Regions from separate parts of the Homo sapiens genome. Here regions 1, 2, 3, 4, 6 and 7 are each reported to be linked to region 5. Evidence: microRNA targets listed by miRTarBase, many of them from high-throughput screens and not tested one by one. Region 5 holds a microRNA gene; each other region holds the end of a gene's coding sequence.
Evidence for each region. The annotated mature microRNA hsa-miR-519d-3p reads CAAAGUGCCUCCCUUUAGAGUG and lies in region 5 at 2,139-2,160, opposite strand. An mRNA with a match to its seed (bases 2 to 7 or 8) in the 3' UTR can be bound and repressed. Matches are read on the target gene's strand: a 7mer-m8 pairs with bases 2 to 8, a 7mer-A1 pairs with bases 2 to 7 and ends in A, and an 8mer does both.

Region 1: the mRNA of ZNF786 is a reported target of hsa-miR-519d-3p. The part of its 3' UTR that is shown has no 7-base or 8-base seed match.
Region 2: miRTarBase lists CHSY1 as a target of hsa-miR-519d-3p. Seed matches in the 3' UTR shown: 7mer-A1 at 968-974.
Region 3: miRTarBase lists AFF1 as a target of hsa-miR-519d-3p. Seed matches in the 3' UTR shown: 7mer-m8 at 1,314-1,320 and 7mer-A1 at 974-980.
Region 4: miRTarBase lists GBP3 as a target of hsa-miR-519d-3p. Seed matches in the 3' UTR shown: 8mer at 1,731-1,738.
Region 6: miRTarBase lists NFIB as a target of hsa-miR-519d-3p. The part of its 3' UTR that is shown has no 7-base or 8-base seed match.
Region 7: miRTarBase lists TPRG1L as a target of hsa-miR-519d-3p. Seed matches in the 3' UTR shown: 8mer at 2,664-2,671.

The regions. Positions count from the first base shown.
Region 1 is chr7:149,067,913-149,070,912 of GRCh38, reverse strand. It overlaps ZNF786 (zinc finger protein 786), which reads left to right. Exons shown (of 4, transcript NM_152411.4): 4 at 1-1,272. The coding sequence ends at 490. Among named protein-coding and RNA genes, the nearest start is that of ZNF786, 21 kb to the left of the region's middle.
Region 2 is chr15:101,174,051-101,177,707 of GRCh38, reverse strand. It overlaps CHSY1 (chondroitin sulfate synthase 1), which reads left to right. Exons shown (of 3, transcript NM_014918.5): 3 at 1-1,981. The coding sequence ends at 320. Among named protein-coding and RNA genes, the nearest start is that of LRRK1-AS1, 24 kb to the right of the region's middle. RefSeq lists an enhancer at 2,511-3,397.
Region 3 is chr4:87,135,250-87,139,608 of GRCh38, reverse strand. AFF1 (ALF transcription elongation factor 1) reads right to left here. Exons shown (of 21, transcript NM_001166693.3): 21 at 1-4,029. The coding sequence ends at 3,908. Among named protein-coding and RNA genes, the nearest start is that of KLHL8, 83 kb to the left of the region's middle.
Region 4 is chr1:89,005,252-89,008,513 of GRCh38, forward strand. GBP3 (guanylate binding protein 3) reads right to left here. Exons shown (of 11, transcript NM_018284.3): 11 at 1,429-2,601. The coding sequence ends at 2,473. Among named protein-coding and RNA genes, the nearest start is that of RBMXL1, 14 kb to the left of the region's middle.
Region 5 is chr19:53,711,116-53,715,559 of GRCh38, reverse strand. It overlaps MIR519D (microRNA 519d), which reads right to left and starts at 2,213; the gene lies at 2,126-2,213. It overlaps MIR517A (microRNA 517a), which reads right to left and starts at 3,292; the gene lies at 3,206-3,292.
Region 6 is chr9:14,084,883-14,089,326 of GRCh38, forward strand. It overlaps NFIB (nuclear factor I B), which reads right to left. Exons shown (of 11, transcript NM_001190737.2): 11 at 1-3,444. The coding sequence ends at 3,427. Among named protein-coding and RNA genes, the nearest start is that of LINC00583, 160 kb to the left of the region's middle.
Region 7 is chr1:3,627,646-3,632,089 of GRCh38, reverse strand. It overlaps TPRG1L (tumor protein p63 regulated 1 like), which reads right to left. Exons shown (of 5, transcript NM_182752.4): 4 at 4,437-4,444; 5 at 1,963-3,681. The coding sequence ends at 3,487. It overlaps WRAP73 (WD repeat containing, antisense to TP73), which reads left to right. Exons shown (of 12, transcript NM_017818.4): 11 at 433-624; 12 at 973-1,320. The coding sequence ends at 1,115. Among named protein-coding and RNA genes, the nearest start is that of TPRG1L, 4.9 kb to the right of the region's middle.

The DNA.
Region 1 (3,000 bases), not on the chromosome of region 5:
CTTCCAGTGTCCGGAGTGCGACAAGCGCTATCGCGTGAAGGCCGACATGAAGGCCCACCAGCTGCTGCACAGCGGGGAGATGCCTTTCTCCTGTGAGTGCGGCAAGGGCTTTGTGAAACACTCAAAGCTCATCGAGCACATCAGAACGCACACGGGAGAGAAGCCTTTTCAGTGTCCCAAGTGTGACAAGAGTTTCCGCCTGAAGGCGCAGCTGCTCAGCCATCAGGGCCTGCACACAGGGGAGAGGCCTTTTCACTGCCCTGAGTGTGACAAGAACTTCCGGGAAAGGGGACACATGCTGAGGCACCAGCGCATCCACAGGCCCGAGAGGCCCTTTGCCTGTGGCGATTGTGGGAAGGGCTTCATTTACAAGTCTAAGCTTGCGGAGCACATCAGAGTACACACAAAATCCTGTCCTGCTCCAAATGAACTGGACATTAAGAAAAGGCTCAGCCAACTGTTTGCAATGATAGAGGCCGATTGGAGTTGAGGCAGAGTGGGACATCCAAAGCGTTGAGCAGGATTGGTATTGCCCAGGAATCCACAGCAACAGTAGCCAGACCCGCTGGTAGACGGGTTTTAGGAGCAGGTATCCTTCTTTGAGCAAGAGTGTCATGCAAGTTAGGAATATGAAGAACCACAAAGGATTTTCTCTTCAGAAGCATCACCAATTATATTTCTTTCTTTTTTTTTTTTTTTTCCAAGATGGAGTTTTGCTCTGTCACCCAGGCTGGAGTGCAGTGGCGTGATCCCAGCTATATTGGAAAAGACAGCATTATAAAACAAGGACATAATTTTATGAAAAAGGAGGCATCTGCAAACGAAAACAATTTCTACGAGGTTATATGTGATTGTTAACATTTTTAAGAAAAGGTGCACACAGAAATCCAGATAAGATGTGATTACCTTTGTGCATTTGTATAAAAATATATGTGTGTAATTATAAGGAAGTTCTGACATTTTAAAAAGTAATTGTTATAAAAGTAAATTTAGGCCAGGCACAGTGGTTCATGCCTGTAATCCCAGCACTTGGGAGGCCGTGGCAGGAGGATCACGAGCCAAGGAGTTTGAGACCAGCTTGGGCAACATGGCAAAACCCTGTCTCTACTAAAAATACAAAAATTAGCCAGGCATGGTGGTACACACCAGTAGTCCCAGCTACTCCTGAAGCTGAGGTGGGAGGATCGCCTGAGCCCAGGGAGGTCAAGGCTGCAGTGAGCAATGATGGTGCCACTGCACTCCAGTATGGATGACATAGTATGACACTGTCTCAAAAAAAAAAAAAAAAAAATTTGGGCCAGGGGTGGTGGCTCACGCCTGTAATCCCAGCACTTTGGGAGGCTGAGGCGGGTGGATCACAAGGTCAGGAGATCGAGACCATCCTGGCAAACACAGTGAAACCCTGTCTCTACTAAAAATACAAAAAAAAAAAAAAAATTAGCCGGGTGTGGTGGCAGGCACCTGTAGTCCCAGGAGGCTGAGGCAGGAGAATGGTGTGAGCCCAGGAGGCGGAGCTTGCAGTGAGCCAAGATCAAGCCACTGCACTCCAGCCTGGGTGACAGAGCGAGACTCCGTCTCAAAAAAAAAAAAAAAACAAATTTAGTATCTCCCAAAGGAAGCTTGGCAAGTCCTTTTCATTCTCTTTAGAATTTATAGAATATAGCCTGGCGTGGTGGCTCATACCTATAATCCCATTACTTTGGGAGGTCAAGGCAGGAGGATCACTTGAGGTCAGGAGTTCAAGACCAGACTGGCCAACATGGTGAAACACCATCTCTACCAAAAAGTACAAAAATTAGCCGGGCATGGTGGCATGCACCTGTAGTCTTGGCTACGCCGGAGGCTGAGGCAGGAGAATCGCTTGAACCCCAGAGGTGGAGGTTGCATTGAGCTGGGATTGCACCACTGCATTCCAACTTGGGAGACAGAGCAAGACTCCATCTCAAAAAAATTATAGAATATATAATTAATATATAAAGATACAGAATAATATATAATTATAAATTCCTTTTTTTTTTTCTTTGAGATGGAGTCTTGCTCTGTCGCCCAGGCTGGGGTGCAGTGGCATGATCTCGGCTCACCGCAAGCTCCACCTTCCGGGTTCATGCCATTCTCCTGCCTCAGGCTCCCAAGTAGCTGGGACCACAGGCGCCCGCCACCACGCCCAGCTAATTTTTTGTATTTTTAGTAGAGACAGAGTTTCACCGTGTTAGCCAGGATGGTCTCGATCTCTTGACCTCGTGATCCGCCCGCCTCAGCCTCCCAAAGTGCTGGGATTACAGGCATGAGCCACGGTGCCGGCCTTTCTTTTCTTTTTTTTTTTTTTTTTGGAGTCTCTGTCAGCCAGCCTGGAGTACAGTGCCATGATCTTAGCTCGCTGTATCCTCCACCTCCCAAGCTCAAGTGATCCTTCTTTCTCAACCTCCTGAGTAGCTGGGACTAAAGGCGCACGCCATCACGTGCCACCATGCCTATTTTTGTATTTTTAGTAGAGACTAAAAATACAAAAAATATAAAATGTGGGCCAGGCTGGTCTTGAACTCCTGACCTCAGGTGATCTACCCACCTCAGCCTCCCAAAGTGCTGGGATTATAGGTGTGAGCCACCGTGCCCGGCCTATACTTCGCCATTTGTCTCTTAACACGGGTGCCCAAGAAGCTGCTGCTTGGGGGGCTGTATTCAATTAACACTTTTAATGTTAACAGGTGTGGACCATCAAGAGATTGTCTCTCCCTGGCTGCCGAATTCTCATTCTTAGAGAGGCAATTTGTTAATTGCTGAACCATCACCTGACATTTCTAGTGGGTCGGGAGAGAGCCCTCTGCTGCCCTGTTGATGCCTAACTACCTGTAACAATCTGATTATTGTAAGTTTTCCTGTATCCAGTATCACCTCCAATATTTATCAAGGAGTTGTGTGAAATACCACCTCACAACCAGATGAAGAATTTTATCACCACCTCCTCCAATTCCTCATGAGGGAGAAGTAGGAATTGCTCTG
Region 2 (3,657 bases), not on the chromosome of region 5:
GTATTTATAAGGGAGATCTTGTCCGAGTGGGTGGCTTTGATGTTTCCATCCAAGGCTGGGGGCTGGAGGATGTGGACCTTTTCAACAAGGTTGTCCAGGCAGGTTTGAAGACGTTTAGGAGCCAGGAAGTAGGAGTAGTCCACGTCCACCATCCTGTCTTTTGTGATCCCAATCTTGACCCCAAACAGTACAAAATGTGCTTGGGGTCCAAAGCATCGACCTATGGGTCCACCCAGCAGCTGGCTGAGATGTGGCTGGAAAAAAATGATCCAAGTTACAGTAAAAGCAGCAATAATAATGGCTCAGTGAGGACAGCCTAATGTCCAGCTTTGCTGGAAAAGACGTTTTTAATTATCTAATTTATTTTTCAAAAATTTTTTGTATGATCAGTTTTTGAAGTCCGTATACAAGGATATATTTTACAAGTGGTTTTCTTACATAGGACTCCTTTAAGATTGAGCTTTCTGAACAAGAAGGTGATCAGTGTTTGCCTTTGAACACATCTTCTTGCTGAACATTATGTAGCAGACCTGCTTAACTTTGACTTGAAATGTACCTGATGAACAAAACTTTTTTAAAAAAATGTTTTCTTTTGAGACCCTTTGCTCCAGTCCTATGGCAGAAAACGTGAACATTCCTGCAAAGTATTATTGTAACAAAACACTGTAACTCTGGTAAATGTTCTGTTGTGATTGTTAACATTCCACAGATTCTACCTTTTGTGTTTTGTTTTTTTTTTTTACAATTGTTTTAAAGCCATTTCATGTTCCAGTTGTAAGATAAGGAAATGTGATAATAGCTGTTTCATCATTGTCTTCAGGAGAGCTTTCCAGAGTTGATCATTTCCTCTCATGGTACTCTGCTCAGCATGGCCACGTAGGTTTTTTGTTTGTTTTGTTTTGTTCTTTTTTTGAGACGGAGTCTCACTCTGTTACCCAGGCTGGAATGCAGTGGCGCAATCTTGGCTCACTTTAACCTCCACTTCCCTGGTTCAAGCAATTCCCCTGCCTTTGCCTCCCGAGTAGCTGGGATTACAGGCACACACCACCACGCCCAGCTAGTTTTTTTGTATTTTTAGTAGAGACGGGGTTTCACCATGCAAGCCCAGCTGGCCACGTAGGTTTTAAAGCAAGGGGCGTGAAGAAGGCACAGTGAGGTATGTGGCTGTTCTCGTGGTAGTTCATTCGGCCTAAATAGACCTGGCATTAAATTTCAAGAAGGATTTGGCATTTTCTCTTCTTGACCCTTCTCTTTAAAGGGTAAAATATTAATGTTTAGAATGACAAAGATGAATTATTACAATAAATCTGATGTACACAGACTGAAACATACACACATACACCCTAATCAAAACGTTGGGGAAAAATGTATTTGGTTTTGTTCCTTTCATCCTGTCTGTGTTATGTGGGTGGAGATGGTTTTCATTCTTTCATTACTGTTTTGTTTTATCCTTTGTATCTGAAATACCTTTAATTTATTTAATATCTGTTGTTCAGAGCTCTGCCATTTCTTGAGTACCTGTTAGTTAGTATTATTTATGTGTATCGGGAGTGTGTTTAGTCTGTTTTATTTGCAGTAAACCGATCTCCAAAGATTTCCTTTTGGAAACGCTTTTTCCCCTCCTTAATTTTTATATTCCTTACTGTTTTACTAAATATTAAGTGTTCTTTGACAATTTTGGTGCTCATGTGTTTTGGGGACAAAAGTGAAATGAATCTGTCATTATACCAGAAAGTTAAATTCTCAGATCAAATGTGCCTTAATAAATTTGTTTTCATTTAGATTTCAAACAGTGATAGACTTGCCATTTTAATACACGTCATTGGAGGGCTGCGTATTTGTAAATAGCCTGATGCTCATTTGGAAAAATAAACCAGTGAACAATATTTTTCTATTGTACTTTTCGAACCATTTTGTCTCATTATTCCTGTTTTAGCTGAAGAATTGTATTACATTTGGAGAGTAAAAAACTTAAACACGATTCATAAAGTTTTTCAAGTTATTTGAGGGAAATGCTTCTGTGGACCGCAGCTTGGGAGTGAAACGAAACCCGGTTTCAAGTGCTTCCTTCCGTTTTTTCCTCAGATGAGCTCGTCCTTGTTCCTCATCAACTCGCTGACCCCACGTTCTTCAAAACAAAGGTCTTCAAACCGGGCCTGGGCCGCGTCTGGCTCCTGGATAGAAATGTCCCCTCCCAGGCCCCATAGAACCTGCATTTTAACAACTGCCTGGCGTGGGGCTGTGGCACAACTTGGGGTTCCAGGATCAATCTAGTTAGAGGATAAATCAGCACAGTTGCAATATAACCCAAGAGTCAAAAGAAGTGAGATCTTTGATGCCAAGGTAGCAAGCTCGTGTGGGCAAGCATTGCCCCCGGGATAGGTATATTTACAGTGTAATGACAGTTAAGTCCCAGCATAATGACATTGCGCTCACAGCAAGAATTGCCGTAATTCAGCCTAATTGCCATTTACTCTGTGGGAGTGTTTAGTTTTTTCTTGGAGAAAAAGCAGAGACATTTTTATTCTTCGATAAGGAAGAGCATAATATGCATCTTCATGACAAAGTATTATAAACGCTTTCCTATTTACCATAGTGACAAACTGGGGGGATTTGGGACGTGGTGTGAGTGACACGTTTGAGTGTGCGTCCAGAATTTCAATGACCCTTGGTGAAACCTGCCATTTCCTTCCCTGCTCCCACTCCTGATCAGGTCTGTCCCTCTTCCTGATAGCAGTGTTGGTGTTCATGGAAGTACTGCCTCCCTTCCAGGCTCCGTTTCCAGAAACGCGGCCGGACCCCTCTAGCTCCCCGCCCTGGCAGTGGCGTGTCTGCACTCCGCGTGCTGGCCTCCAGGTTCCACTCTCCTCCGTCACCTGGTGCTGTTCTTTTGCCCAGAGGGTGGACTCGGCAGTTCCACAGGCACCCGGGCCCTCCTCAGCCTGGCTGCTGTCCCTGCGTCTATCATCCCCCGTTCCACAGGGCACCTCCTCCAGCCGCTGCGCCCCAAGTCGTGGGGGCATCCGTGTCTGCGGCCCTGCCACACACTTTCCCTCCCTCTGGACAACCTGACTGTTTCCCAGGACGCAGCTAAAACACCCCACTGTCCGCTCCGCTGCCACCCTGGACCCTTCTGTGGGATGTGACACAGCTGGGCCTCCTTCTGTGACCATGTGGCAGTATCTGTCTCACTAGAGCCCCTCAAGGAGGCCTGGGGCTCTTGTTCCCGCCCGTCCCCTGGCGTGTTGGGAACCACACTGCCCTACTCCCTCGAGCGCCCTCTCCACATGTGCCTCCTGCCAAAGGCGTGCCCTCCCATCCTCCGCACTGAGTACTCCTGCCAGTGCACAGGCTGAGACCTGCAGCCCCTGCTGGGCCTGGAACTGATCCCTTCCCCCTGAATCTCTGGAGGCTTCCTGCTTAACCCTTCCACTGTGGCTTCCTGCTTTGTGACTCCTGTGGACAGTATGTTAAAATCGTGCCGTGTAATATGGCTGAAGAAGAGGAGAAGGGTACAATCACAAAAGCATGAAGGGGAACCTCCCTCCTTCCTCCCAGCACCAGCTCAGGACTTCCCACAAACGGCCACCAAGTTTGTCCTGGCCAGGAAGGCAGAGCTGTAGGCATAGATGCATAGACAACATTTTTGAACTTTGC
Region 3 (4,359 bases), not on the chromosome of region 5:
ATAATTGATCCTAGCATCCCTTCATGGCTGCAATGCGTAACTCTCACTTTTCAGTGAGAAAAATCTATACTCTTGTGTTTCTAAAGAAAGCACAAAATATTCTTGCAAGATTTAAATACTGCTAATCAGTGGCAAAGAGTGTAAACAGATGAAATGGCAAAGTTTTAAAAGTTTTTTTGTAGTGTTTGGGAAAATAAAGAATCTGTGGTAGGAAGCAAGCAGGTTTAAGTACAAGAAAACAAAACAAAACAAAACAAAACAAAAAACAAAAAAACCCGAAAGCCCAGCCTCAAGCCTCAACCTACTTTAAGATGCACAAATACAACTCAAACTTCATAAAGCAGAGGAGTAAAAGGTGCAAGAGCCATGTAGCATCCCTGAAGCCATGGCGAAACAAACACAGCGGTATTTAAAAACTGGGTTCACTCAAAGGCACAATTCAATCAACCTCTTTTTCTCTATTTAAGTGTATATATTTATATCCCTTTGTATATCAGAGATAAGTTTTGTTAATTGTAGAGGACACAATGGCTTTCTTCTTGCTTCTAAAAATTACTGAAGATGAATCATAATAAAACAGTAAGCTCCTGATGCTAGTAACATTAATGTGTAAGATACCAAATAAGGCAAGTTTTCAGCCAGAAAGGGGTAGGGGGTTTTAGCTTTCTAAACATCCTGAGACCTGAAATTAAAGGATACAGGACAAGGGAGATAAGTGCGGTCCAATCTGTGTAAGGGAAATAGCTACATATTTTGGTCAAAACAGATAATATGAAGGTCTTTTTGTTACAAAATATTAGATACTTTTCCCATTCAGTATTGTAATCAAATCATAATATCAGACAGTCAAATTCTCCTCCTATTGTGATTCTATTTCTGATAAATGCTTGCTGGGCCCTCCCACTCCTCACCACTGCTACTAGGTGGCCAATGTTTTCACAATCCGAACCCAGTATAATTTGATAAATTTTAGTAAAGTGTTTTTTCATTATTTAGCAGGGCTCTTAAATTCAATAATTCACAGAAAGGACAGAAACATTAAACACTTTAAAAAATAAAACAGTGTTCTTCCATTTCCTACTAAAGACACACACACACACACACACACACACACACACCTTGTAGTGCCAAAGGCAAGATTTACACTCTATTTTCACTCCTTAAGATGCTTTGCATTTGTCTTACTCTGAAGTGTGTACTATTATTGTTATAAGAACTTTCCATACTCTAAGGCTTAATTTTATAATCTAGCCCTTTCAAATGATCTACCTCAGTACAGATTTTGCCTTTGGGAATTGTAAGCATGCAGTGAAAAAGTGCAAATCATTTTAAAAATCCTTCAGACCTCTATATACAACCGTAACAGCAAAAAGACCCTATGAACGTTAAGGATTCATCAGCCACTACCTTTCACATACTCTATTAAAAAGGTTACCATTAGTTACTCTCCTTTAGGTACAATGCAATAAGGATCAGAAATATCCAATGACCAAAGTAGTACAAATTGATCTATGCACATTTGTTACTTTTTCAAGGGACAAATAAAATCTTTATATCAAGTTCAGAGAAAAAAAAAAAAACCCACAAAGAGTAAGGCCACTGAAAAAGCAATCTGTTTTAGAGCTGGCTGAGAAATCTACCTGGAAATGTCTTCAGTCAAGGGAGCACTGTGGCTTGCCAACAGAACACGCACATGCTCTGGCACAATCTGCATAGAACCTGCCATAAAGAACACAACCCTTCACAATTGACAGGTGGCTTGTTCTAGGGAATGATAGGACAAAAGGGGAGGGGATGGCTAAGGGAGTAAGGAAAAAAGAAAGATGTTAAATAACATCTTCAATATCGAAATAAAGCCTGATTCTGGTGCCTTGTCCTTTACATATAACAGATGGACACACAATGCTACACACACACCAAACCTACCAGGCAATTACTGTTCATTTAACACAGGTTTTTAAAACTAGTAGTTTAAAAAGGACCAGGGCTTTGCTTTATAACATGAATAAATGAAACCGGTCATCAGGAATCACACATCAAGGTCTTATGCTCAGATATGACTACAGCTGTCATTCTCTGGCTTTCACCTAAACATGAGGGACCAGACCTCTGACTTAGTGACAACCAAAGAACAGTCTGGAGAAGAAACTGAAGGAACAGCCTCACACAGACCACTCACACTGTGAGAGATAAGCATCGCTCCCATCCCTCGACACATCCCTTTGTGTATTTACAAACTACCAAGAGAGTTCCTGCATTCATCATAGGGATCTTAGATGTCTTCATTATAAATAAATATGGTTCTCCCTCCTCCACTAATAGGAAAATGTGAAACATGCTTGGTAGGAAACATGTACAGGGGCAGAATGGGACAAAGGCGGAGAAAAAGTTATAGAGATGACACTCCTCAATTGTAGTAAGTGTGCAAATTCTACTTCTAAAAGGGATAAAAAAGAATTGGCTTTTAAAAACACTGCACTCAAAGTAATGTTTCCAATAATAACCTTTAAAGTTTCAATGAAAAAGAAAAATCTGTGCTTATGGGCACATGGGATTTCTGATTGTGTTACTTCATTTTAGGTCATTCAAAATGGACTTGGTTTAATGCATACACTATGGCAATAACTTACGGAGGGCCACAGTTCCTCCTCAACCAAATCAAATCTAGCTGAGAACACTCTGGAGTGAAGGCATGTGGTGATGAGTTTTTCAAAAGTCTAATCAACCACCCCAAATCTCTACATCCTCTCAGGGAGTTAACTTCCCCTAGACAATCAAGGACTCTGAAAGTCTAGTTTTGCTATAAATATAAAATATTTGTAGCAGAAAAATATAGCCTCTCTAAGAAGCAGATTTCATGTTTCTTGTTCACTGACGAAACTCTGAGTTGGCTGGACAACATGAGTTACCACATAACTGTAGACCACAGATCAGCACCTCAAATTCCAGCTCTACTTAAACAAAACTTTAAAAGCACTTTAGCCATCTGGTCAGGTATAAATGTTGGTTCCCTTCTTCCCCAAGGGAGGAAATTCAGAATAGAGTCAACAGTGACTGCCCTGTTAGAGAGTCCCTTTCGCTGAAGCAGGGGTGGGAAATGGCAGGGGTAGGAAATGGCAGCGCCAAGTCCTCCTGTGCAGACCTCGAGGTGGCACCCCATGTGCTGTGGCTCCTCCTCACCGCTCCGACGTGGGCTGACTTTCAGCACAGTAATGAGAAGTCAGAGCTGGGGTCAATGTGCAGCGCTCTAGGCAATGGGGAGATTGGGGGCGGCAGGAGCGGGGGTTGCCTTCAATTTTATAAATTACAACAATACTTGGTATTATCAAGCCACTGTTCATTGGCAGAAAGTGGGGCACAGTGGAGTCCTTCATTACTTATGGTTTACAGATGGCCATTAGAAGTTACTAAACAAATATTTCTCCCAAAACTCAAAAGAAAAAAAATCATCCACAAAACCCTTTACCAAAAGTCATTGTTAAAAAAAAAAATTTCCTTCTGGGAATGGACTAGCGTGGCTACTGAGATGACGTGAAATTCACTTTCAGAGTTGAAACTGTTTCTCCTCATTTCATTTGCAACTTGTATCCTGCTGGTTTAAAAAAAAAATAGAAATGTTTCTAGACCATTCATACACCCATTTAAGCTAAATTGCACTTCTGTCCTTTAGTTAGGAAGGGCAAGATCATCTCTGGGGCCAGCCTCCTCATCTCTGCTTCTGCATAACCACAGTGTCCAACCAATGATCACACTGTTGTTGAGAGTTTAAGTGGACAAATGTCCTGGCCATCTCGTGGTGCTTCTTTTTTAGAGTTTGGTGTCCTGATGAAACAAATGTCTGGACTGTTTTTGAGGCTTCCAATGTGCAAAAATAGTTCCCAAGGCATTGAATCAACCTGGGGCTCCATTAAGGTGTTTTGGTTAATTCTTGTAGCTGCTGAAAACCCTGTCGTGTATAGTGCACCAGGTCCACCAAACTGCTGTTGAGGGCCAAGGTGCACACATTTGTGCTGAGCCGAGCAAAGAATTCTGCAAAAAAAACAAAACAAAACAAAAACAAGTAAATACACAAGCACACACAAAAATTAAAATGGAAACAAAAATTCAAGGTTCCAGAAGGTAGGTCCCCACAATATTCTGCACTTAATCACATCAAAAAAATCACAATCTACTGTAATTGCTTGCTAATTCTCCACTAGACTACCAACCAGGTTTGCTTTAGAGCTGAATCCATAATGCTTAGCACAATGGCTGGCACTTGGAAAACACCAAATTTATACCTTTGCCTCAAAGGATGCATTAATGAAAAAAAAAAGTTAAAAGCATTATCAGTTTGATAAGACAGATAAGGCCCTAAGA
Region 4 (3,262 bases), not on the chromosome of region 5:
AGTGGAGGTGGTGGAGGGTGAAATGGACTTCATGAGGGTCCTTGGTTTTGGTGGTTTAATGCTCTATTTTTGTGCTGGTTGGCCTCCTGAAAGGAGGTGGCACTTTCCAGAAAGTATCAGTGGGAGAGGGACTGGTGGTGGGCAGGGTCCTAGAACTCCCAAGATTAAATGACCTTTGTCTTCAGCTACCAGGGTGGATGGAGAAGGACCATCAGGTCAGGGCGGGGCTAGGAGTGTCTGAGCTCAGACTCTCCATGGCTGGATCTTGCTATGGCTGCTGTGGGGGATGGGGGTGAGATTCCCAGGTCACTGGAGTTGTGTACCTAGGAGGATTATGGCTGCCTCTCCTGAGTCATGCAGGTTGTCAGGGGAGTGGGAGAAGCTGGCAGTCACAGGCCTCACCCAGCTCCGATGCAAACTGGAAGGCCGGTCTCACTCCCACTGTGCCCTTCTCCCTGCCAACAGCTCTGAGTCTGTTTCCAGGCAGAGGGCAAGAGGGGCGGGCTTAAAATTTGGCTGAGGCTTTCTGCTCAGCCAAAAAGAAAAGGACTTTAGTTCTTCACCAGCCTGTGAAGTTTGCATGCTGGATTTGTGCCCTCCCCGAGTTCTGGCAGGAGGCTTCTCGCCCCATTCAAATTGTTACAAAGTTTGGTTGGAGAATTTCTTCTTTCTGTGGAGTTTTACCTGTTGCTCCTCTGGCTGACCTCCCGATAGATCCCTGTGGTGCCAGGCAGGAATGGCCTGCCTGGGGACACAGTGAGCTCCCAGGGCCTTCCAACTGCTTCCTCTACCCCTGTATTTTGCTCGGCTCTCTAACTTGACTCAGCTTCAGGTAAAGTCGGAAACTCCTCCTGCACACAAACCTTCAGCTTCTCCAGTGGGGGTGTGTGTTCCAGAGAGGAGGGTCTCCCTTTCCCACTTCTGCAGTTGGGGCAGTCAGAATATTTGGAGTGTTTCCTGGGTCCTGCAGGAGCAGTCTGCCTCCTTCAGAGGGTCTGTGGGTCCTCTTGGGATTCATCGTGTAATATTTTGAAACACTACATAATTATTTCAAGATTCTAACATATACAATCTAATCCTTATGATTCTTATAAATGTAAGTAAAATAAGGCAGATATAAAATGAAACTTTGACCAATGTTTCTATAAACAAAGGTCTGCAAACTATAGCTTGTGTGTGCCACCTGGTTTTGAAAATTAAGTGTTATTGGCACATAGCCCCACCCATTTACTTATGTATTGTCTATGGCTGCATTTGTACTGTATGCAGAGTTTAGTAGTTGAGACAGTTGACCTGCAAAGCCATAAATAATCACTATCTGGTATTTTACAGAAAAGTTAGCCAACCACTGCTATAAAGACTCAAACCTTATTATTTGGTGAAAAACTAAAAAAAAAAAAATGGAAATAAAAAAACTAGTGAAACTTATTTTATTTCTAGTTTAGTTTATTTCTAGTTCAAAAATAATCTGTAATTGCTGTAAGAAATGTCAACCACTTACCTAGGATGTTTGACAATTGGGATGAAGTCTACATATACTAAGTAATGGCAAGACAATTATTTTATTGCTCAAAAGAAAGTCAAAAAAATTCCATATTCCCTTTGGGGAAAATTGGCAGGATTTCAAGTATGACCTTTAAGAATCAGGAAAAGACTAACTTATGCTTTAGGATTAAAACAATCAAATAATTAAATTAGTTCAATTTTCTAACATAGTCTCTATCTTCAGTTAAAGTGCATCATTGCATGTTATACATTACTAAAATTACACAGTGCATAATTGTTACCATGTGACTATTTAATTCAGGGTCAACTGTCTAAAGGTCTCAGGTGTCACATTAAGGTTATAATCTAGATGAATTGAACAAGAAAGAAAAGATTTCTTCATTAGCCAATTTGTTTATGATTCAATTCCTACTCTTGCTAATGATTTCTTTACCTTCCTATGGAAAATATAAGATTCTAGATCTCTGTATAAGATGGTTTGCTTTAGCTTGAGATCCATCAGTGAGAATTATCCATGGGCAATGTCCAGAAATCACATTATTGCTCATAGACCTTGTAGCCTTGATATAATGGAGAACTGTACACTGTCTTCCCTAGGAAGCTAGGATGGTTGTTTCTGATATTGGGACCCATTGTACACTTGGCCAAACCAGTGCCCAAATATGTCCCAAGATTTTTACCTAAGACTTTCCTCAGTATCCACTGGTCGTCTGGAAGAATAAACTTCTGAGTGGTGGCAACTCATGATCCCTCCTCTGTTGGTACAGAGGTAAATGCATCTTTGTTGCACAATTTACAATCTTTTTAAGGAAAAAACATGATTTTGATCATTGAACTGCATGTTCTTGTAAACTTTTAGTGTTATGATGCAAGATCTAATTATTATCAAATATAGTGACACTTGTTCCAAATTCTAAAATTGTTTCAGTTATGCCTTGGGTTAGGATGACAGAAAAGCTCTGTTGTTTAGATCTTTAGCTTATGCGACATATATCTCTTGGTTTTTTTTTTCAGGGTCTTCTGTAGCTTTTGTATCTCATTTTGAAGTTGGGTACTTTCACCTTGGCATCTCTCCTTTAGTACTCGGGCCTGTTCCTAAAAAGGGACAAATGGAGGCTAAATAAGTGTAGCATTAAGTAAATCTCTGTAAGCTATCTAGTTTCCACATGCATTGATTTATTTAGTACTTAGTTTTTTTCTTGAAATTTTCTCTACCCTTGATTTTAATTATAGTTTTTCTGGGCATTTGGGCTGTGTGATTATTTCTCCTGGGTTTTCTATAGCCAAAAGAGTTTCAGCGTATGCCTTCTGCTCTATTGATGAAGGTCTTGCTTTTTTCCCCCTATTAATTATACAAAACCTTTGTGGGAAATCTTAACAATATATTTGACTTCAAATCTTCCCTATGCATTATAGACTTTTTAACACACCTACCTACACACATATTATTATTATATACACATAATACAGAGATAAGTTACTCTCAAAATCTGATTAGGTATATGAATCTTAGATCAGGAAATTTGATCTAAGTCTCTACTCCCTGTTGGCAGGGGTAGCAGAAGATAGGCAAGGAAATCCGAGTGCCAGACTTACCATATAGAATTTCTGCACATAGCTCCCAACTCAACACAAACTGTGAGTAGGGCACAGAAAACAGGCAGGAGTGGTAGACTGCCCTACAGGTGTGAGGGTTAGGGAGTCCTTCTGCTCATAAAAGTTCTCTTAGAGCCAAAGTCATACTAGATGGGATAGA
Region 5 (4,444 bases):
TCAAAACAAAAACAAAAACAAAAAACAAAAAACAAAAAACAAAAACAAAAAAAAACCAGCCAAACAAATAAAAAACATACACACACAAAGAAAGAAAAAAATACCCAAGGTTATATCAGAGTATTCTCTGTATTTAGAACAGTATTTTGTGTGTATATGATTATATTATATATAAGTATATATATAACGAAATATATACCATATATTTCTGAGACCCTGTGTCAAAGAAAGTTCCATATATTGTATGCTCACAGGAAGAAAAATTCCTACACAAGTGCTTGCTTTGGCAGTTCACATAAAAAAAAATTGGAATGACAGAGATTACGCTGGCTGCTACACAAAGGTGACACCCAAATTTATGATGTCCCATATTTATCTATTTATTTTTATTTATTTTATTTATTCATTTATTTTTGAGACGGAATGTTGCTCTCTGGCCCAGGCTGGAATGCCATGGCTTGATTTCAGCTCACTGAAATCTCCTCCTCCTGGGTTCAAGGGATTCTCCTGCCTCAGCCTCCGGAGTAGCTGGAATTACAGATGTGCACCATTGCACCCAGCTAATTTTTGTATTTTTAGTAGAGACGAGGCTTTGCCATGTTGGCCCTGTTGGTCTTGAACTCCTGACCTCAGGTGATCCTCCCGTCTCGGCCTCCCAAAGTGCTGGGATTACAGGCATGCGCCACCGCGCCCGGCCTATTTTTTACTTTCTTGAGACTGAGTCTCACTCTGTTGCCCAGGGTGGAGTGCAGCAGAAGATTTCAGCTCACTGAAAGCTCAGCCTCCTGGCTTCATGTTGGCCAGGCTGGTCTCGAACAACTGATCTCAGGTGATCCTCCTGTCTCAGCCTCACAAAGTGCAGGAATTACAGACAAGAGCCACCATATGCACACTAGTCCCATATTTAAAATTAGGAAAAAAAAAAACAAAACAAAGATGCCCACACCTGAACAGCAAATCGTTTGTTGTTCAAGTACATCTCAAATACATTGTTTATCTAAAATACAAGTTTAACTGGGGTCAGGTATGAACCAAAGAACAGTCCTTACTTTCTTCTTGTCTGTGCATGGGGGGTTAATATTCACATGTGGTCCCATCTACCAAGGACTGGGGAGGGGCAGAGGCAGGAGGATCTAAGCCCACTTCAGCCAGGGCAGCATAGTGAGACCGCCGTCTCATGCATTTATCTCCTGGTCATGCACCCAGATTTCAGCTTCATTTCCCCAATAAACACTGAAGCCCCATGCACTCCACCTCCGTGCTCTTGCTCATCCCATCTGCAGGGACACTGAGGTCCCCTCAACTCCACCTGACCCCACGTGAGGTTCTATACCAGTGCCAGAAAAATTTCCATAAAGTAAAAGGTGCTGATGGCTGTGCCCGGTGGCTCACGCCTGTATTCTCAGCACTTTGGGAGGCCGAGGCCAGCGGCTCACTTGAGGTCAGGGGTTTGAGACTAGCCTGGCCAACATGGTGAAACCCCACCTTTACTAAAAAAAAAAAAAAAAAAAAAAAATCAAAATCAAAAAGTAGCTGGTTGTAGTGGTGGGTGCCTGTAATTCCACCTACTCAGGAGACTGAGGCAGGAGAATGGCTTGAACCTGAGAGGCAGAGGTTGGAGTCAGCCGGGATCATGCCACTGCCCTCCAGGCTGGGTGACAGCAACACTCCATCTCAAAAATGAATGAATGAATAAAAAAGAAAAATACAAATATTAGCCGAGTGTGATGTCAGGCATCTGTAATCCCAGCTACCCAGGAAGCTGAGGCAGGAGAATCACTCGAACCCGGGAGGTGGAGGTTGCATTGAGCCAAGATCGCGCCACTGCACTCCAGTCTGGGTCACAGAGCAAGACTGTATCCCATAAAAGGACCATCTGAGCCCAACAGGCCTATCTTAAAAAGTGCTTCTCTAGTCTCTCCTGGGCAACAGAGACCTTGTCTTAGAAAAAAAAAAAAACACAAAACAAAACACACACACCAAAACAAAAAACAAAAACCTAACAAACAAAAAAACCAACCAAACAAACAAACAAAAAAACAGACTCCCAACATCATCCAAGTCTGATTACAAGCATGGTCTGCAAATGTATTACCAAGATCAGCATCATCTTCAACGTGGCTTTTCCCAAACGGTAACACTCTAAAGGGAGGCACTTTGTTTAAGAGAAAACAAACAGAAAGCGCTTCCCTTTGGAGGGTCACAGCATGGGATCTTCTTGCTCCAGCACTCTGGGTTTTTTGTTGAAATCTTCCTTGACCAGGTTAAAATGGCCACAACAATAAAGATGCATTTATTGGCCCTGTTTGCCTGTTTTCTAGAATCCAGAACATAAACCCCTAAAAGGACCATCTCCAGTTCCTTTCTTCAAAGGCTCTGCAGGTTAGCCTTGTTCATCAAGGGGCAACCCTCCTGAGTTTTGCCTCTAAAGAGAAAAAGCAATGCCTACTACACATACCTTATATTTAACCAAGAGAACTGGGCTGGATTTCTAGAGAACAGCAATGGACTTTGAGCTGAGTGTTCACTTGAGTTCCAGCACAGGGATACATAGTTCCGATGGGAGCATCCAAAATGGAGTCTAAGATGTTGAAGAATATACATTGTCACACACACAAACATCCTCCAGGATAGACCACAGGCTAGTGGATCACCTGAAAGCGGGAGTTCAAGACTAGCCTGGCCAACATGGTGAAACCCGTCTCTACTAAAAACATAAAAATTAGCTGGGTGGGGCAGTAGGTGCCTGTAATCCCAACTACCTGGGAGGCTGAGGCAGAAGCATCACTCGAACCCAGGAGGCGGAGGTTGCAGTGAGCCTAGATCATGCCAGTGCTCTCCAGGATGGGCAGCAAGAGTGCAGGACACGATGGTGGGTGCCTGATGCCTGAATTCCCAACAATTCGGCAGGCTGAGGTGGGAGAATCACTGGAACCCGAGAGGTGGAGTTTCCGGTGAGCAGAGATCCTGCTACTGCACTCCCAACGAAACAAGAGTGTGTCTCAAAAAATCAAAAAATAAAAAGAGGACCACTTAAGCCCAAGAAATCTTGGTGGAAGGTGCTATCCACCCACGCCTGGGCAATAGAAAGCCTGTCTTGGAAAAATTTCAAATCACAAACAGAACCCCGACATCATGCAAGTCTGATGATAAGCACGCTCTGCAAATGTATTACCAAGATCAGCAGCATCTTCAACGTTGCTTGTCTCAAACAGTAACACTCTAAAGGGATGCACGATCTTTTCTTTTATACAACAGACAGTGCTTCCATCTAGAGGGTCACTGCCTGAGATCTTCTTTTTTTTGACACGGAGTCTCACTCTGCCGCCCAGGCTGGATGCGGTGGTGGGATCTCGGCTCATGGCAACTTCTGCCTCCTGGGTTCAAGCGATTCTTCTGCGTCAGCCTCCTGAGTAGCTGGGATTAGAGGCACCCACCACCATGCATATTGCATATATGACTGCATATATGACCTGGTCATGCACCCAAGATGTTGGTTTCATTTCCCCAGTGAAAACTCAAACCCCATGCACTCCACCTCCGTGCTCTTGCTGAGCACATCCCATCTGCAAGGGACACTGAGGTCCCCCTTTGACTCTACCTGACCCCACATGAGGCTTTATAAATCAGTGCCAGAATAATTTCCATGGACTAAAAGGTGTTAATGGCCATGTGTGGTGGCTCACGCCTGTAATCTTAGCACTTTGGGAGGCTGAGGTGGGCAGATCACCTGAGGTCAGGAGTTCGCAACCAGCCTGGCCAACATGGTGAAACCCCGCCTCTGCTGAAAATATAAAAATTAGGCCAGGCGTGGTGGCTCATGCCTGTAATCCCAGCACTTTGGGAGGCAGAGGCCGGTGGCTAACTTGAGGTCAGGGGTTTGAGACCAGCCTGGCAAACATGGTGAAATCCCATCTCTACTAAAAAAAAAACAAAAAACAAAAAACAAAAAGTAGCCAGGTGTGGTGGTGGGCTCCCGTAATTCTAGCTACTCAGGAGGCTGAGGTAGAAGAATTGCTTGAATCCGGGAGGCAGAGGTTGCACTGAGCAGAGATCACGCCTCGGCCCTCCAGCCTGGGTAACAGTGAGACTCCATCTCAAAAACATAAATAAATGAATTTTAAAAAATGAAAATATTATCCAGGTGTGGTGATGGGCACCTGTAATCTCACCTACTTGGGAAGCTGAGGCAGGAGACTCGCTTGAACCTGGGAGGTGGAGGTTGCAGTGAGCCGAGATCACACCACTGCACTTCAGCCTGGGTGATAGAGAGACTCTGTCCGCTAAAAAAACCATTTGAATCCAAAAGACCTAGGTTGGATGTGCCACCGCACTCCAGCCTGGGCAACAGAGATCCTGTCTTAGAATAAAAAAGCAAAACCAAAACAGAACCCCGCCATCGTCCAAGCCTCATGATAAGCATGCTCTACAAATGTATTACCGA
Region 6 (4,444 bases), not on the chromosome of region 5:
ACACTTGAACTAGGCCTTTGTATTCAAGAGGCAGGCAGGAATACCCACAGTGTGTAACTTGGTTAGCTAGAACTGCTCACTGGCAAAAAAGAGAGCGAGTCTGCCTTTAAAAAATACTGTGTGTCCTGTGAGGTTCATTTGTTCACCTAATAGGTCAAAGATACATGAAGAGCTTGGCTGAGATGATCTGTTTGCTACCAGGGCGAGTATCACAGAAATGATTGGACTTACTTTTGAACTTGCACTGCTAGGATCCCGCTGTGCTGTTCAGCATTTGGGCTATCAAACTGAATGGGCTAATCAAATACAATTCTCCAGCCCATAAGCATTGTTCTAAAGTATTCATTATTAAATGATATGCTGTGAGAACAATTGACAGTTTATTTTATTAGGCCATGGCCTAGGGGAAGGGGGCCAGGGGACTCCTTAAGACAGCCTACCATGTGTCACCAATTCTGAAAGATTTTCCTTCTAGTAATGAATACACTCAATGGGACTGGGCGGTGAGGGAAAGGCAAAATAAAACCAGCCTCCATTCAGCCTCTAGCCCTCAGGGGAAACGAAATCAAATATATAGTTAAGGTACCATTCCTTAAAAAAATCCCATCAGCATCTAATGGGTTTAATTCATCCACAGGAAGATTAATTGCTTAAAATTCTATATTTCCCTTCTGCTCTGGTTCTCAGTTTTAAAAGGGGAGATAAAATGAAAACAGGATTTACTTTTTTGTTCCTTAAAAATTGAACTTTGATTTTAATCTATCAGTCCAAATACATTCAACAATAGCAACCCTCTGTTCAATCTTCTGGATATTAAAAAAAAATCCAAGTGCACTGCCATCCATTTGAAGTAGTAAGTCACAGGTAAATCATATCCTATCATTAATGAAATGAAATGGGGACGAAAAGTGGCAGAAAAGGAATACGGGAGACTCCCTCCAACAGGTCTAATGTGTTTTCTAGGAGAAAGAATATTCATGTGTTAAACTCTCAAAAGTGTTAAACATCCAACATCCCCTATGTGGACATTTCAACAAATATTTTTGCCAAATATGAGACAGGCTCACTCTCCACTGTGGATCTGGAACTTTCAAGAAAAACTATCACCAAGCCAAGTCTGCCTTTTTAAGCCAAGTCTGCCTCCAGGAGAATTTGTTGTGTTTGCTTGTTCTTACTATTGTGTTGTTATGAAAACCAGTAATGAGTTCAGCTTGCAACCCAGGTGGGAAGTTAGAGAGGGGAACCTGTGTAAGTTGAAGTTTGTCACAGTAGGCAGAACAGTCGCTTTGCAGCCCAGGCCCATCTCAGGGTGCACTGCTTCACAGCTACACTGCAAAGTGTTAAAAATCCTCCCACCCACCCCAGAATATATATATATGTATATTAAAAAAAATCCCCTGTCCATCTCTCAGTACACAAAAGGACCTCATCACACTGCAAAAATAGCAGTACCCACTTTGGTCAATTAAAACAAACAAACAAACAAAAAAGCATACATTATTTTTTTTTTAAATCTGTGTACTTACCTATAATAACCAATACAGCTAAAAGCACTACCTACATAGGCAAAACTTGGTATTGCATAATTCGTATAAATTTGAAACCCCTCCCCCCCAAATATTAATTGGAAGATGAAAAACATGAAAGGTTAATAGAAAAAAACACCAAAATACTGAAAATATTGCTGGTCGATTACAATTTTTAAGCGGCAACTATACACAGCCATGATATGCTTTATAAATGTGAGATAAAGGTATAACTGTCTAAAAAATCCATGATGTCACACATTTTTCTTCGTCTGGAGTACAAAATATTTTGTCATAAAAATGGTAAAGATTTAAAATGATAATAAATGCAGCAAAACAAGTGTAGTGATGTCACTTTGTTGTATTTTTTTGTTTTTTTTTTTTTGTTTTTTGTTTTTTAGATTTCAAGGCAAGGCACGTAATGTGGACATTATATCTTCGTGCAAATTAGGATTACTGGAAAGAGTATTTTTAATTAAAATTTTAAGAGACATAGAGGCAAAATGTGTCTGCCCATGCACACTATGGATCTGTCAATACAAGAAATTTGTTGAACAAGGCTAATGTCTGAAAGCACCATGCAAGTTTTCAGCACCCTGATTACATTTGTTTTCTCAAGAGTGCGTTTTTATATCCTACACCCTGGCGTTCCCAGTTTGTAAACTGTAAGCTTTACCCTTGTGACATGGATTTGCCTGCCTCTTTGTCTCTATAATGCAGATTTTATAGAACCTTTTGTACACCCTATGGGTTCTTGATGCAACCAGTAATTTTAAATAAATAAATTCTACCTCCAAGGAGGCTGCAGCTAAACCAACATAAGTGCTGTGTTTTCATTAATTTTATTTTTCTCAAGCACATGATTTGTCTTGATTTAATGCCTTTTTAATGCCCTCAAAAACTGAGGGGAAAATAAATTCGTTCAAAATTATTTTAAATTCTTTTTAATCCCCTCAATTTAGAGTCCAAGGGCTGAAGGACTTATAATCATGATTCCCCTTTAGATATAAATTTATAAATTGCACTTGCCTCTGTTAAGTGTTTCTTTTGTGGGGAAAATATTATATTAATTTTTACTGTTGCATGCAGAGAGAACACTTCACCTACATAGAGGCATTTCTTCCATAGAGCCTTTGTGTTCAAACTGTTTTTTTCCTTTTTTCTTTTTTTCCTTTTTTTTTCATTTTTTCTTTTTTTAAGATTTCAAACTGGGTTACACACTGGAAAAGGCTGGGTTAAGGGCCGAAATTTAATAAATCTGTACTGATAACTAAAGGCTACAGAGATTTCATATATTTTTTTTAACTTTTAGAAATCAGAGTGCTTATAAAATGGCTGGCTCATGGCTCTGTCACCCAGCACCTCTGACGCCGCCTCCTAGCCTTCGTTGGTGAGATAACCAGGAATAGTGATTCCATGCGTAAACAACAAGAATACTAAACCAATAAAACTAGCTTATCATGCAAATATTAAGGCATCTAGAAAGTCAGTTAAAATATATTGTCATAGAGACAGAACATCTATTTCCCAGCGGACTTCATGTAACAAAGGCTACGTTGCAGGGGCTGCGATCTACCATCAGTGAAATATCATCGACCCTTTTTATGTCATTACAGTTTCAACCTTAAGGGAATTAGTGATTGTAAGTGCTGCAATTGCTGGTCTATTATCTTCTTTCTTCAGTTTCTTTCCTTTCTGCCTTTGTGTTGTTTTGTCCAGTCTTCCTCTTTTCCTTTTTTTTTATTTAAAAAAAAAATTTCTTAAACTATTGTTGTGTTTCTTTTTCCCTCAGTTGCTTGTTTCTGCTTGAAGGAAAGGTTCTCCAATTATGTTCAAACCGTAATTTTGGACATTGGCCGGTAAGATGGGTGTCCTATTTGACACTTGGAAAGGAACCAAGCTAGCCCAGGTACCAGGACTGTTGAGAGGAGAGAGGCAGCAGGGAGGGAAGAAAAAAGAAAAAAATACAATGTTAAAATCTACAACAATATGAGAAATATAAATTCCAGATGCATCAAATTATTGCTATCCCTATTTTCAAAATTACAGTCTAATATGAGATAAATGTGCCAAATTATACATGTTACACCTATCTAAACTCTATAGTCTATTTTTTAAATGAAAATTAAGACTAAAGTGAGGCAGAAAAATCCAGAGTAAGATATATAAACAATTATTGAATTCTAACCGATTGAGGATATTCTAAAATATTTTACATTAATCAATATAAATGCAATATCATTCTTTTTTGTACAGGAAAAAAAAGAAAAAGAAAAGCAGCAATCTGTTGGTACCAATATACTTTGCCAGTTACATTCTAATCTTATTTTACCTTTAATTCACAAGCAATTCAGTGGTCAGATGGGTTTCAATTTCTTACCTGCCTATTGGGTTGAATACAATTGAAAAGTACGGTGAAAGATATTTCTTTTCTCCTTACAACAGGAAAAAAAACTACATGTTTAAGGTAGGCCCATGCATAACATACAATTTGAAATGCCCAATTATCAAACATACCTTAATCAGAGTTTTTTAGTAAAGACCGAACAAATAAGAATCATAGAACCAAAATGGAACACAGCTTTTTTTGTTCTCTACAGAATACCCATCGTGAGGAAAAACATTTACAGGAGGCCACAAAGGTCTCTGCTTGCACTGATTAGTTCTATAGCTCTCCAGCAGTTTTCTTATTCTAACCCTCTTTAACTTACTTTTAGAGAGAGCCACAGCTTTTCCTTCCAATTCATGGTTCCCTACATTGGCTTGCAACAGAAGCCTGAGCATTTCCTGCTCCTCCCCATCAGTAATGATACCACATTTGAGCTGCTCTGCACTTGAGGAGTTTGGAGTGATAGATGGCGGGTTGGGGGTTGGGGGTGTTGGAGGCAGTAAATGATAAGATTCCAGCCTTACTCTCA
Region 7 (4,444 bases), not on the chromosome of region 5:
TGCAGTAGCCGAGGTGCTCACAGAAGCTCCTTGGAGGCGCTGGGCCTTTGTCCTGCAGCAGCCGCAGGTCCGCGCATGAGTCAGGAGGCCTCCACCCTGCTCACTTGCTCCACTCTGCTGAGTAGAAAGCAGGGCTGGGCACACTGCAGCCCGCCTTTTGTTAAGGGTTTCTCCATTTGTAAAGGGCTAAAAAAAAAAAAAAAATACCAAAGAAAGAAACACATTTGGGCCCCTTACAGCCCGTGATGGCCACCCTGGCCCTGGCCAGGAGCCCTACAGGGCCCAACTGAACCCAGACTGCAGGGTGCAGCCGCCCCACCCCACCGGTTCTTCCCCTCCCCTCCTGTGGTGTCAACAGCAGAGCAGAGGGGCAGGGCCAACACAGAGGAGCCAGGCAGGGATGACACCGGTGCCCTGTCCTTCCTTCCTCAGACAACATTCCCAATGCCGTCTGGGTCTGGGACATTCAGAAGCTGAGGCTGTTCGCGGTGCTCGAGCAGCTGTCCCCAGTGCGCGCATTTCAGTGGGACCCGCAGCAGCCGCGGCTGGCCATCTGCACGGGAGGCAGCAGGCTCTACCTGTGGTCCCCAGCGGGCTGCATGTCGGTGCAGGTGCCTGGGGAAGGTAAGCACATCCCCGAGGCCACGGACGTGGCAGCCTTGCTGTGTGCAGTCTGGCATCACACGGGCTGAACTGTTGAAGCCCAGCTGCTGTCTCCGGCAGCACTCCAGGGAAACTGCCCTCAGAGTCTTTGCGTAAACCTCAAGACGGACACACAGGGGACCCGCTGCCCTCAGCTTTATGGGCTAGAAGCAGCCTCTCCCTGACTTGAGGCAGCTCTGGGGCTCCACCCTGGCTCTGCCTATGTGGGTCACTCCAGGCACTGTGCTGGCCTGCAGGACAAGGGGGTGCCCATCCCCCAGAATCTGGGCCTCCCCTGCTGTAATCCTCTGGCCACCTGTCTCTCTCTAGGCGACTTTGCAGTGCTCTCTCTGTGCTGGCATTTAAGCGGAGACTCGATGGCCCTCCTCAGCAAGGATCACTTCTGCCTCTGCTTCCTGGAGACAGAGGCAGTGGTCGGCACAGCCTGCAGACAGCTGGGCGGCCACACGTAGCAGCGGTGCACTAACGTGTGCAGAAACAGGGCTACTCTGTGTTTCCAGTGTGGGAAAAAACACAGCTTCACCAGGAGGTTCTCCACTGTGGTGGTCTGGATTCAGTGATTGATTCTATTTTTCTATAGCAAAGCATTTTTGTAAATATGTATGGTATAAAACTGTAGTTTTATTATTTAAAATAAATACTTGCTGATTTATACAACTACTTCTCTTCTTGAAACGTTTAGTCACAGGCAGGTTTTCTAGGTTCGAGGTTCTGGTCAGTCTTAGGGAAGATGGATAGCCCTACAGTAACTGAGCCCCGGGCCACTAGCTCCCGCCAGACACCCGGCCTGCTCTGGGTTCTCTGTTTGGATGTGTTAGGACAACGAGGGGGCATCTCTGTGGGGCACATCCAGCCTCCCCACAGTGGGTCTGAAGTGTGGGCAGGGAGCCCTGGCACCTGAGAGCAGCGCCACCCCCAGGTCCAGTCCCCTCGGGATGGGAGCTGCAGGTCCCCGACCAGCTGAGTCAGTTCCTCAGGAAGTCTCATGTCTACTCTGGTTTCGGAACCAGTGTGCGTGGGTCTCCACCCTGGCTATTTGCAGGAAGTGCCTAGAACCACCCAGAACCATTCCATCAATCTCTCCAGCTGGTGCTCGGCAGGCAGCCAGACTTGGTTGGCACCACAGGTGGGGGGATCAGGGTTGCAAACCTAGGTTGTTGCATATCGTGATCTCTTTCTGCAGAGAACCATACTCGGCACTGCTGTGACAGGCAGTCCGCATGGTACAGGCAGAACAGGCCCACAGGTGCAGAGCCGGCAGAGATGGGGCAGGCTTTCAAAGAGGGAAGAGACACTTTCTTGGTTGTTGCACCTACTTTAATGACAACTTCAAAAAAGGAACAACATCCATCCACTTCTTAATGTCTTTATGAACACAGAGGCTAGAGTCCCCAGCCAGCTTCTGAGGCAGCCCTGCACATCCTGCAGGTGGCCACACTCAACCCATGCCACACCGTTTGCTTAAAGCTACAAGTCCTAGAGCTGAAGAACTGGCAAGCCAGTGCGTGAAGCTTATCGACAGCGCTTCCAGCCACACGAGCAAGCTGCGCAGATACAGGGAGGTGCGTGGGTCCCTGTGGGGAAATCCTCCAGGCACATCGAAGCCCGGGCATGTTTAGTGTGAGACTTGGACAAAGTCCTCTGTCTACACCAGAGTGGTAGGAACCAAGGCAGGCATCAGCTGCGTCATAAGGATCTGGTAGATGGAGTCTCGCTCTGTCGCCCGGGCTGGAGTGCAATAAGTGGTGCCATCTCAGCTCACTGCAACCTCCGCCTCCTGGGCTCAAGCGATCCTCCTGGCTCAGCCTCTCAAGTAGCTGGGACCACAGATGTGCCACCACGCCTGGCTGCTTTTTGTCTGTTTGGTAGAGACGGGTTTCACCATGTTGCCCAGGCTGCTCTGCAACTTCTGAGCTAGAGCGATTTGTCTGCCTGAGCCTCCCAAAATGCTGGGATTACAGGCATGAGCCACCATGCTGGCCTGATACGGTTCCTTGTTTTAAAGTGCATTATTCAACAAGCAAAGTACCCGATTCCCTTTAACTATGAATACAATACAAACTTCGAATCCAGAGAGGTGTAAAACTTGTGTGCAAAGAACTGTCAAGGTGACTTTCTCAAATTAATAAATTGTCTTACAATGATTTTCTGTAAAGCTTTCTGGGTCTGGGAAACAGACCTGAAGTATTAACACAACTTGGGTTAATTGTGGAAAAAGTGTCACTTCAGGTCACCCATTTCCAAAAGAGCAGCGGGTCACCAAGGGGCCCACAGCCACAGACCGGTCTCAGTCAACCGGTCTGCTGGCTGCTTTTGGATGAGCTGAAGTAAAAATGGATTACATTTTAAAATACAAAATTGGACACCAGGTGTAAACATACTTGCAACTGCAGGCACTCGAGATACCAGGTGCCTCCCTGTTTTCAGCAACCTAGGCAAGCGCTAAGGGGTGTGCTATGGGTCCCGCGTGCTGGGGCAGCTGGGGTGGGAAAAACCACGAGAAGCCAAGTAGATACTCAAGGAAAACACCAGAACTGAAGTTACAGAGAATGAAATACCAGCAGCACAGGGACAGCGAGAGTCTTTTGGCTTTTGTCTGTAGCTTATATGAGCAGAGTCCAATATCCAATTAAATAGATAGAATTCACTTTACGATTCTAATTGTGCTGAGATCCCTAAAGGTGAAAGATCCCCATCCTTCCAGCAGCAGCAGGGCAGCATGAAGACTGCCAGGCCTCCCAGTCCCCCAGCCCCCACATCCCTTGGCCTTCTGGGGAGGGGGAGGAGCTCCCAGAAGGGGGAGGAGCTCCCAGAACGCAGCGGCTAAAAGCCTATTTTGCCCCTGGTCATGGAGTAGCCCAGTTTCGCCTCGTTGTTAATGAAGGACATGAGTCCCACGTAGGTCTCGATGAGCAGGGGGCGCTCCAGGATCAGCACGCCATTCGCCTGTCCTGGCAAAGGGCTTTCTTTTTGGGCTTTTTTGACAGCTTGGATTAACAGAGCCTTGAAGCTTTCCAACTTTAAAGAGAGAAAAACATGGAGCTTTAACTGTCAGGCAAGATAAGAATGTCTATTACTTGAAAAAATTAGCATTCTGAGACACTTAAATCCCTCCAAATGCCGCCTATCTCTTCGTCCCTTCACTTGAAAGGGCTGCCTCTGCCACATCCTGGGGGTCTCTCAACTCTCGTCCCCACGGAGCTCTCTAGGTGTGTGGAAATCTTGCCACCATGCTCTCCTGTGGCCAATGGCAGCCAGCACCTGCAGAACCCTTCCTGTATACAGGGCTGAGTGGCTTTGCCGTCACCCAACCTACCAGGTCAGTAACCAGGCCGAGGCACACAGCTGGGGAAGTGCAGGACCCCCGCCAGGCTCTGGGCTCTGGGCTCTGCTCTAACCCCAGCCCCGAGGCCTCCTCTCCTGGTGCGCATCCGCACTGGTCATCTGGCACGGCTGGGTCTGCTGCCACTCTCTGAAGCCCAGCTGGGGCCCTTCCCCACCCAGATCACCATCAGGAGGCCACATTATGGAGCTATGCTAACCAGCAGCCACTGGCCACATGCGGCTACTTTAACATAAATTAACCAGAATTTCTGACAACTTAGGGAATCAACTCTAAAATGAGAGCTTCCTCTCTCATTTCTAGCCACGTCTCAAGTGCTCGGCAGCTCCGCGTGGCCGCCGGACAGTGCAGACCTGAAGTGTCTCCGTGACTGCGGGGGGTGTTTCCATCACTGCGGGGGGCGCGGCTATTTATGTGCCTGTCTTCTTACCTGACACA